Linked DNA regions of Homo sapiens. The protein of the gene in region 1 interacts with the protein of each later gene in a biochemical or structural test. Each region holds a gene or a part of one and is shown in the gene's direction. Other genes may lie near its edges.

Region 1 (4,539 bases):
GCACTGTTGAAGGGAGAAGAACCCTTGTTCAGGAAGCCTTAGAAAGGGATCCTTAAAATAGTACTCTACGCAGACAAGTGAAAATTCTTTTAAACTGGATATTACTCAACATGTTTTCAGATGTTTCCACTACATTGAGGCAAACTTTTTAAAAGTGGAATGCAAATAGCATTTTACTTTAGTATTTCTGCTTTTTTCTTTCTGTTTCTTTGGTAATTGAAAGTTTGTTGATGAATATTTGTGTAAAACGCATTCAAGTCTATAACCTTTCCAATTACCTGTGGCCCTTAGTCCCACAGGAGTCCCTGTTGGAAGGGGGTAAACACTGGATATTAATGTTGCTGAGTGAGTCTTTCTAGCCAGGACAAGCTGATTGGAATTTTTGAATGGTAGAGAAGAAACAGCACAAAGGCACTTGCCATTTTAAGTGTTTGGAGAAAGAGAACCTTTTAAGTTTGGATTGGGTGAGCTTTCTTCTAAAAGGAGCTTCTGAAGTAATTGCAAAGGAATAGAATCGACTATTTTTATAGTATATTTAATATATTTGTATATAACTATAATAGGAACCCTCTACATGCCTCCCACTTTTCTAATTTACTTCCCCTTTTGCCATAGCACTAGTATAGCCTCATCCGCATGGGTAATGTGCCTATTGTCAGCCTACCAAAAGATAGTGCTGCTGCTTTATGAGACAGGTGAGAAGACCCAACTCTCATGCCTGGGGATCCTTTACGGAAGGAATAGCACACACTTTTAAAACAACATACCACAGTCTAAAAGCATCATTTTGAAATGTAACAAGCACTTTATTGCAATTACTCATTTTGATAAAGTTTATTCTTAGGCGTTAACCATTTCTAAAGGATCCCCAAATCATCACTTACTTAGGTGAAATTATATAAAATGACACATTTCTGAGAAATGTTTAGGTCCAGTGAACCGTAGTTGGTTTATGGGAGTGATTTCAAGATAGCCAAATGAACTTTGATTTTTGTTTTGAATGTGGTGGAGTCAAGAGATTGTAGATGCCTAGTTTGATTTAAACACTATTGTAAACCTATCTTGCCTATTGTGTGGACACCAAAAGAGACCAATGAGCCTGTTTATTTTTCAGAGGTCTAGGAAAATTGCATCCGTGTGAGTAGATGTACAGAACTAATCTAAAAGTGATTGCTAGTAACATTTTAGAATATAATAATTTCAAGAATTATTCTGAGTGTTTTAAATGTGCCCTGAAATGTTGGCATGTCATTTCAGCATTTCCATTTGAATTGCTCTTGTAATATTTTTGCACAAAAAGGACTGAGAAAAAGAATACTTTGGTTAAAGGAAAAAAATAGTATAATTTGGTCTTTAATTTTAATGTCTCCTGTGGAAACACTGGGGATGAATTTTGTTGGCACAGTTATTCAGGATATTTAAAACAGTGTTGAACAGTTCACAAGAAATTAAGCAAACTTGGATTTTAAAAATTAAAATACTTTCTTTCCATGTGACTGTTTTGCATAGTTTTTTCCCCCTATGTCATAACACTACATTCCTTGTTTTTCTTAAATAAAATACTCTGCAGGTTTTGTTGTGAGTGTTTATAACAGTATTTTGTAAGCTGCCTGGGTTTCCTCAGGGAAACATTATTTAGTGGAATAGGATATAGTTTATGGAGAGACAACTAAGTGAAATTCCATCACCACCACCAGCAAACACTGAGGTGCTGCATTAAGTGACAATCAAACTAGTAAGTATTTATGAAAGAATTTAGAAAGGGGTTCAAAGAAGCAATTGCTTTTAAAGCAGTTCTCTGGGGTTCTTGAATAAAAATGGCTAAATGTATTTATTTATATTTTAAAATACCTGTGTGTTCTGTTTTCTCATCAAAGTGATTTCGGTGTCATGTATTTAATGTGTGGTTTGTTTTGTTTTGCACCATATTCTTCTTAGGGAACTGGCTCTGATTTGGGGTGCAGTCACCAACTCTCATGATAATCTTTACGGACAGTCTGAATCTACTTTACTTCAGGACGGCAGTGGAGGGGCCAACTCCAGATGCCCCTGCACTTCCCTCCTCAAGTCATCTAAGAAAGAATTTTAGAAATAACTCCTTTCAAATCTGATTCATACAGTTCCAACCTTTTTCTAGTTTCACTTGCTGCCTTCTTTGTTTTATGGGCACTTTTTGTGTGATTACTTCCCCAACACAGTCAAAGGCCAGTATGACAGAACCAATGGCACATGATGCCTCTATTTTGCCCATTTGGGGAAATGTTAGTAAAAGAAATAGCATCTTTTAATGGCTGTCATTATCATATCCATATTAAAATCCATTTAAAGTTCTTAAATTTGGCGGAATAATGTATACAGGCTGTAAACTTCTACAAAAAATGTTTGCTGTCTTTAATATGGTGTCAAGTTACTTGGTCCTTTGAAAACAAAACAAAACTTCCATACACAGCACTGCCCAGTAAAGCAGTGTTGGAATATTGGAAACCTAGACATTTGAGGATCCTTCTTGCTCACAAGCATTGGAACAGAATCCTCCACTTTAGGACTCAGAGAAGCTATGGAGTCCCACAGGCTAGGTATAGCACACAACTTAGAGAACGGTAGTTAAAGCACGTCAACCACAATTGAATTTAATGATCTAAAAAATATTTCTTAACTCTGAGGGTTAAACTGAAGATACGTTTTCAAATAAAAGCTTTTAAATTTCTTAGGAAACAAACTGTGACATCGCTTTTAAAAATGACATTCAAATGTTTATAATGTGTGTTTTTGAGTTGGCTTGGACTAGTGCAAGTTCACTGCTGGCAATGGTTATGCCAGTAGTTAAGTTAAAATAAGTTGTTACCTTCAGATTGATGTCTTGTATAACCAGACAATCATCTTCAAGCAAAAAAATTGGCCAGGAAATGTCTTTTTAAAAAAAAAAAAAAAAAAAAAGATGTGTCAGCCAGAACAGTTACCATTCAGACCATACTGGAATGATTTTGAAATCTTTACTATGGTTTAAGTTGGGGAAGGCCTCAGTATGGCATTTTCATATTCACTCTATGTAAAGATTGAAGCCCAAAGATGAGTTAAATTCAGTGCTGTATTGAAACCAGTCAGTGCAAAAAAAAAAAAAAAGTTTTACCTTTGTAAATTTTTCATTGTTAACATCAGTTGGTAGTTGTTAAAACATGCACCAAATTCTTTATAATGTTCTGTGTGGTTCTCAATGTGATATTCTTGACATTGCTGTCCTTACTGCTTGGTTCTTGGTTTTAAATTAAAAAGTAGATGTAGCTCATCATTTTTACTTCCAAAACGGTGGAGCTAAAAACGGCTAATTGATCTTGAGATAAGAATACCCTTTACTAAGGCAAAGATTTAATTGAAATCCAAAATGATTTATAGAAACGAAAGGCATTTTCCATTTGTTGTCTTCTGCCGAAATTCTGAATTGCATACACACATGAAGGATAATGAATGGTTTCAACGGTGCTATATTAGGTTCTCTGATTTTCATGACCTATGTATGTTTGGAAATACAATATTGTATAAAATGTGGATCGTTTTGTTACCGATTTAATATTGCCATTTTAATTTGGTGTAACAATTGGTTACACTTGTTTTTCAAAGCTATCCTTTGAGGAGAAAGTCAAAATGTGTTGTTAGCCTACCTCCACTCAGGCCTCTTGCTGTGTAATCATTATTCCAGGTTATGATGTGCATAGCTTTTAAAACTGCGTGTACTATTATTCTGCTCTTTCCCATACTCTTGTCATGTATTCAGAACCTAAACTTATAGCAAAAGAGCCAAGCAGTAGCAGTTTTTGTAAATGTAAAAATAATTAGATCCAGACTTTGTTTCCTTCAATTTTAAAAATAAAAAATACCTCAGTGCTATGTTTTTCAGTTATCACCTGCATTTCTCAAAAAATAACACCTGCTTCATGTGGCACATAACTTGTAAGAATCACATTTTGGATTTTAAAGAAAGACTATTAAATATTTTAAGATCACTATCAATGACATTTCCCTTTCTTTTATTCAACAATGGAGCCTATTGCAGTAGCGATTTTTACCTTATAGCTTAGGTCTGACTTACCAAAAATTCTCAGAGGAATTATGTCCTGCTACAAGATTGTGGTGCCTCAGAATGCGATGCTGTTCTTATTCGCATATGAAGCTAGTAATGGGACCAAGCTACCTGAACTGAGGTTACACGATGATGGTGCCAGCTACTCCCTACGAGGAATTGTCTTTTCTGTTGTTATTAGAAAAAACGGTTGGGTGCGGTGGCTCACGCCTGTAATCCTAGCACTTTGGGAGGCTGAGGTGGGTGGATCACCTAAGGTCATGAGTTCAAGACCAGCCTGGCCAACATGGTAAAACCCTGTCTCTACTGAAAATACAAAAAAATTAGCCAGGCGTGGTGGCGGGCACCTATAATCCCTGCAACTTGGGAGGCTGAGGCAGGAGAACTGCTTGAACTCAGGAGGCAGAGGTTGCAGTGAGCCGAGATTGCGCCACTGCATTCCAGCCCAGGTGACAGAGTGA
Region 2 (7,032 bases), on another chromosome or scaffold:
ATGGTGGCCCTGGCTTGCTAGCCTCCAACCTTGCCTAGGGCTGGCTGCTGGGCCTGGACCCGAGCATGCAGCTGTGACCCTCTGCCCAGATGTGGATGGGACGAGCTGGGCCCCTAGGAAGGGCTGGTGGGGGGCGGGTGCTCTGAGTCCCTTGGGGTGTGGGGTGCAGGTTGAGCCGGCAGCCCTGGTCACGCGGGCAGCTGCTGTGACTGGCTCCCGGCTCTGCCAGCACCTGGTGGTTCTTCCAGCTGTGCCTGTCCTTCAGGGCCTGTGGGGGGCTCACCTCCACCAGGAGGCCCCTCTGACTGCCCTCTCTTGGCCCCTGCCCCATCTCCCCCGTGGCTGTGTGGGAGGTCGCTGTCAGTGGTCTTTGTTTCCTCCCCTGGGAAAGGGTGCCTGCAGGATTTGCTGTGGAATTACTGTGGGAACAGGGGGTACTCAGGGGTGTGCCCCTCTGCCCCTGGGGCCTGGTCGTGCATGTGGCAGGGGGCTCTGGCATCAGGAGAGGGTGGGACAGACCTCAGCTGCATGGAAGGTGGTGTGGGGGCGGGGTGAAAGCTTTACAGGTCCACCCAGTGCCAGTGGAGGCTGCCTGGGGAGTTTCCTTTCTTGGGTGACGTTTGGTTTTGCCATGGGTCAAATGTTTCAGGGCTGGGACCTCGAGTGGTGAGCAATGCCTGTCCTCTGGAGAAGAGGGCACAGCTGTCCCAGCAGACACAGGGCAGAGGCCCTCCCCAACCCCCAGCTGGCTCAGGGCTGGGACACTGTCCCTGGGACCCGGGCTTTGCAAGCCAAGACCTGCCCCTCCTTCCCTTCTCTGCCAGGCTTGAGTTTGTGTTTTTTAGCTGGCTTTGGTGGCCAGGGCCTTGGGTTGGCCTGTTAACTGGTGTGTTTTCATAGGAATTGGCCATTTGCTGGGCTAGGGATGAGGCTGGGGTCTAGGGCCACAAGGGCCTGGGGGGCTGGCCTGTGGCTGTTGGGGGCTGGTGTCCATTTGGGGGTCACCTTCCAGACCTTTGTCCTGAGATTCTTAAGCTGATCAGTTTCAGGGTGCTATGGTGTGGGTAGAGGGGTCACCCTCCTCCCCCCTGCACCTTGCCCACCTGCCTGTATGTTTCCATTTTATAGGGTGCAGCTCTGTCTTTCATCCTTCCTTCCTCTCCTCTGCCCCCTCCCATTCAGGGCCTTTGTTACCTGCAGGATGGAGGTGGTGGTGGTTTTGCAGGGATCAGCACCTTCCCAGGAAGAGGTTCTGACAGGTGGTGTCCCATTGCTGGGCGGGTGGTCAGGCCACCTGGGGTTGGGCCTTCTGTCCTCGCTGCCTGCCTGGTCTGCTCTTTGGCCTCTTGGGGCTTTGGCTGTCCATCTGAAAAATGGACATACTCATTGGCTCTTCCAAATGCTGGAGAAGGCAGCCTGGTGTGTTGTAGGCTGGCTGGGAGTTTGGGGAGTCTGTTTGTGGGGCGTTTCCCCTATCCTGTGGCTAGGTCCTCTCTGTGCCTCCTGCCTGGGTCAGGTGGGGCCAGGTTTCCAGCACTGGACCAGAACAGGCCATGATGGTCGCTGGGGGCTGTCAGGTGTAGAGGAACAGACTCAGGAATAGAGGACATCGGGGACACTGAGGTAGCCCTTTCTGTGGATATAGGCCTGCCACAGGAGAGCGCTCGCTGCTGCTGGGTCCTTGGGACCAGCCCCTGTGCCACTCCAGGGACCCTCCTCAGAGTCCCAAGAAGGCAGGTGGGGCGAGGGACCGCGGTTTGCACACCCACCCGAGCCTGGTGCGAGATGTTCTGAGCAGTTGTGCCCCAGCGCCTCACAGACAGGGAAATTGCGCCCTAGAGTTACAAAGCAATTGTCTAGCTCAGCAGCTGAATGAGCGTGAAATGGAGCAGAAAGCAGCTAAGGAAAATTGGCCCGGCCGCTGTGGGGAGAGCGGGTGCGGACCGCGTGCAGGGCTTGGGTGTGTGCACGCTCACTGTTGCACACACACAGAGTCACAGGCTCTCACCTGGCGCTGTTGGCCGCTGGCCCGTGTCCTGGCGTGCCCGTGAGTGAGCCAGGCCTCATGGGGTCCCCCAAGGATCATGGTGCTCCCTGCTGGGTTTGTTGGCCTCCTTTTTTTCTAAATCTCCCCAACTTGTCCAGGACTCACCCTACCCCCACGAAGGTGCCGATGGCTGCAGCGGGTGCCTGCTGCGTGCCAGGGACTTTATTTTTGGGACCTTGTGGAGGTGTCACAGAGACAAGCCCACTTAGTGGATGGGGACACTGAACCCTGGGTGAGGTCTGTGGGCCAGCCTTTGTGTCCCGCTGTGGGGCCTGCTTTTTCTCCGGCACTTGACTGGCGGGGGCCGCCTTGAGCTCCAGCTGGGAGGACCTGTCCCCAGGGTGGGGGCTCTGCTGCCCCTGGTCCTCCTGCCTCTCAGCATCCTCAGAGGCTGCTCACCGACCAGGCTGGGTCTATGCCCCATGCTGGTTCCCAGGAGCCCCATTGCTGGTCTTGGCCCGAGTGAGTGAGGTTTTTGTTCAGTGGGGACCCTGGTGGAGGGCTGAGGTCTCACCATGCCAGCTCTGTGCCCTGGGACTGGGCATCTTGGCCTCTTGTGCTGGTTGAAGGCCCTCTAAGGAGTGGCGACCCCTTGATCCTCACTCCAGGGTTGTCCTTGGCTTGGGGTGGTGGCTAGGAGAAGTCCCCACTCCCAGGTGGAAAGCTGTAGTTGGGTGAGCAGCAGAGGCCCAGCCTGGAACTGTGGCTTGCCCACCTCCTCATGCCACCAGGGCAGCACTGTCTGCAGCAAATTCCTGAGGTACCTGGGGGAGTGGACGGAGTGAGATTGGACCCCCGGGTCCCAGGGCAGGGCAGGGTAGGGGCACAGTTCTTTCTGAGGTCCTAACCCAGCACACGCGGCCCACCCCATGCATGCAGGCGTCCGCCGCAGCCTTCCCAGGGTGACCTGGCAGAGCCTTGACAACCCTGGCTGGGGAGGCGGGGATTGCTGGTGGGCTTGTCCACACGTGGCTTAGGGAGCGCCCGCTGGGTGCTGGCCTGGTCCTGCTGCCTGTGGAGGAGGGGTGGGGGAGGGGTGCCCAGAGGTAGGGACAGCAAGGTCTGGCCTGGAGGGGGTGAAGAGGGTGAGGACGCAAGGGTGGGGTTGCAGGGCTGGAACCAGGAGGGGGTTCACGTGTGAGGTGAGGCTGGGTAGGGCCTGTGTGCCGGGCGTAGGTGCATGGGTGCCCGGAGACTGGGGGATCCCAGTGTGGTGCTCATGGCTGGAATGAGGCCACCAGTGCTGTGCAGAGGGTGGTCTGGAGGCAGCCAGGCAAGGCCTGGAAGGAGGAAGTGACTCTCTCCAGGTGGCTCACTGGTTTCAGGTGGGCCTTGGGGCCCCTGTGAATGGCCTTGCACCCTTGCCCTGGCTGGGCTCCTCAGCATGGCAGCCTGGGAAGGGGGGAGGATTCCTAGCATCTTCCTGGGGGCTTAGGCCAGGTCCCTGGGCTGGCCTGGGGGTCGTCTTTCCCGGGCACGGGTATGGGTGAGGCACCTTTTCCCTGGCCCTGGCTCCGGCCCCCCCTGCACTCCCCAGGCTCTGGATGAAGTAGGGGGCAGGCCGTCCAGGGGGAGTAGAGCAGCCGGGCCTCTTGGGGCCGGATCAGGGATGCTGAGACCATGGAGGGGACCAGACTTTGGGGCTGGGGAGTGGGACATTCAGGGGTCCTTCAGGGGATCAGAGCCTCTCAGGGTCTCTGTGTGAGAAGTTGCCACGGGGTCTGTCCTGCACAGCCCACATCTGTCTTTGATGATAGGCTTCAGCCCCAGCTCCTCTTCCAGGCACTGCCTGCTGGGGTGAGGGATGCCGGGAAGCCCTTGGTCACAGTCCTACCTCTGGGGTGACCCAGAGGCCGTGCCTGGCCTCCCCGCACCTCTGTTGGCCCTCTAAGCCATAGTAATTTCCAGCTGGGCCTCGGTTTCCCCAGCTGTACCCGGGGCCAGGGCTGGGGGTGATGGGTGTCGGCGCAGACTGCTGCCGTGCGTGCGGGGTCTGGAGCCTCTGGCGCTGAGGGGAGGGGAGAGTGAGTTGGGCCTGGGCCAGGCCGTGTGTAAATCCTCCAGCCGCCATGGATAAACCCTCGGAGTTCAAAGACAACCCCGGGTGCGGCCGCCGGCTGTAATGAGGTTACTGATTCAACAGGCTTCCTGGTGCTGCAGCCCAGAATGCAGTGAGGCTGGGAAGCCCCGGGGAGGGATCTAAGTATCCTGTAATTGACCAATTTAGCTTAAGTGTCCACACTGGCCCTGGGCAGAGGTCAGGCAGTGACAGCACAGGTGGCTGGAGTCGCTGGGGTGGGCTCCCAACAGCTGCTGTGTCCGAGCCCCTCTGAATCGGGCGCTCTCGGGCCTGGGCAGCCCTGTGCCTCTGCCGGGACTCCCGCTGCCTGCTCTTCCCTCTCCACCTGTGCAGGCTCAGCCTTCCTTCCCAGCCAGAGCCCACCTGCCATCCTTGGTGCCCAGCAGCCCCCTTGGTACAGGGCTTGGGGTGGGGCTGCAGCTTTGGACTTGGTGCCCAGAGCCTGCATTCAGCTCCCGCTGGCAAGCCTGCTGGGTCTGTGCCTGACTATTGCCCAGTTTCCTCCCGCCTGAGGGCCGTGGAGTGATCCCACGCCTGTGTTAGGTGTTGAGGCCGCTGCTGGTGGAGGTGCCTGGCGGATGGGAGCTCTCCACGTGCCAGCCACCCATCCAGCCTCTTTTTTCCCAGGCTTCCTGAGGGCAGGGCCCTTCTGAGGCGAGGGCATCCTTGCAGCACCCAGTACAGGTATGCAGGAAGGACTCGCTTGACTTAGAGAGTGGGATCAGAAGCACCTCTCCTGCCTGTCAGCAGTGGCTTCAGTGCCTGTGCTTGGGGAGGATGTATCTGGTACCTTGGAGAGAGGCTGGCAGGCCGCATCCAGCTCCTGGTTTCCTGTCAACCCAGGCCTGGTGTGCAGAGGGCCACCAAGGTGACAGTTTGCTCCTCAGAAATAGGACTGGGCATTGGGCAGCAGTGTCATTGACTGCCGCAGTGATAGCATGGGCTGTGGCGGTGGCAGTGTGTGCTGAGCCGTCCCTCGAACTCAGCTCTCTACATGGTGGGGCTGCTCTCTGACCAGGCTGCTGTGTAGCCCTGGGCAGGTCCCTTCCCCTCTGTGGGCTTCAGTTTCCCTGGGGCCCTCTGGCTGTCAAAGCCTCTGCCTTGCCTTCTTGGCACCCTGGCTTTGTTCTGATATGCTGTTGGCCATTGGTCAGGGTGGCACCCTGGGGACCAGCTCCCTGGGAAATGGCTCTATGCCCTCCCCAGCTGAGGGGACAGGACTTGGGCTGGGGTAGGGCCTGGGTTGCTGGCGTCCAGGAAGCCGTGGGCTCTGAGCTAGCCAGGGTGGGTGTGGGTCTGGATGTGGACTGGGCATGTTGTGGTGAAGCGCTTTCGGGATGTGCAGCTTATAATGGGGAAGAGGTGGCCTGGGGGCATGGCAGAGCAGAGGCAGTAGGGGCCACAGATGAGTGGGGTCAGTCCCCATGACGGTTATCACTCAAGGCCAGGCTAGTCCTTCTCTCTTTGGGCACTGACCTTCCTTGCCTGGAACCTTCCATGGCACCCCATTGTCCCCAGGATGGAGGCCAGGCCTCCACCTAGTGTCATGTGGCTCTGTAGCCTCTCCCACCTCATTAGGCACCTCTCACTGATTTTCTCATGTCTAAAACTAACTGGTGAGGTAGGCTGCCCCATGCGATGAGTGAGCGCCCCTCTGAGTCACAGGCTGTATGGCCCTGGGCTAGCAAATTCACCTCACTAGGCCTCAGTTGTCTCACCCATAAACTGCCTGGGGGAGGTCAGGGAAGCTTCACAGAGGAGGTGATGTAGTTGGGTTTTGAGGGATGAGTAGGAGTTTGTTGGGTGGGAAGTGGGGAAGGAATCAAGGCAGAGAGAATGGATGGATTCTTTCCAGGGGGATCTGGTTCTAGCCAAGGGTATGGGGAAGGGATGCCCGTGCGGGCGTAAGTAGGGGCTTCCCTGGAGGGTTTCTGAGGGTCTGACTGTGTGACCAGGCTCCTCTGGCCTGCCCCTTGCTGGCTGGCTTCCAGGTCTGTGCTGGTGGGGACCCCTGTGAGCATGAGGCTATGGTCAGCTGGCCTGGGAATAATTAACCCTGGGAGGAGCTCAGGCTAGGGGTGGGCCTCGCTGCAGCCTGGCCGCCCCCAGCTGGCCTGATGTCCCCTCTCCTTCCTGCCCAGGTCTGGAGTGTGACTCCTACCGGCGCCCATGTGCGGTACCCCACCTCGGGGCCCTGGCTCCCAGGGTGTGTCCACTACTGGGAGGAACGGCTGGGGCCCTTCCCTACCACCTATTCCTATACCCCTTGGTCTGTCCCTGTAGTGCCCTGTGGTCCTGCCTTGGTCCCTGCCTCTCCCTGTGGGCAGCTTAGGCGCCATTTGCCCGGGAGCCCCCTGTGTGAGTGCAAGGCTATTGGATGGCTTCTCGCCCTCTCCCCACCCGGAGGGAGGAAAACAGCTCTGACCGTGAGCAGAGTCCACGGGAGGCGGTGGAGCTGCCCCTACCCCACCCCTTCATGGACTTTCTGCCCAGGATCAAGGTCGAGGTGTAGGGCAGGGAGGCGGGGCCTTCGTCAGGGGTGCCAGGTCACTCTGGGCACAGACAGTGGCAAGGCGGGCCTGGCAGGCAGCACCACCGCACCATCCCGGGCCCAGTGGAGGGGTGAGGACTGGAAGGGCAGTGGGGCCTTCCTCTTCCCTCCCCTCAGTCTCCTGGGCACAAGGTCAGAGCCATCCACCCCTCTGTCCTGTGTGACCCACCTTCTCCTGAGGCTGGGATCACAGGGGGCGTCACCCCTTAGCGGCAACGTAGAGCTGGTCTCCAGGCCCCTGCAGACAGTGGGCCTGGGCAATGGCATGCTCACAGCCCGGGTCTTCTCTGCCACATGGACTTTGTGACTTGGAGCACGTTCCTTCTTCCCTCTTCGTCTTGATTTCCTCATTTG

The links.
Region 2: the proteins of CLOCK (region 1) and RXRA form a complex in vitro, tested with the Homo sapiens proteins (one study listed by BioGRID).

Annotation. Positions count from the first base shown.
Region 1 is NC_000004.12:55,427,372-55,431,910, reverse strand, and holds the end of CLOCK (circadian locomoter output cycles protein kaput), read left to right. Parts: 3' UTR 1-4,008; downstream 4,009-4,539. UniProt on the Homo sapiens protein: Transcriptional activator which forms a core component of the circadian clock.
Region 2 is NC_000009.12:134,329,455-134,336,486, forward strand, and holds part of RXRA (retinoic acid receptor RXR-alpha), read left to right. Parts: intron 1-7,032. UniProt on the Homo sapiens protein: Receptor for retinoic acid that acts as a transcription factor.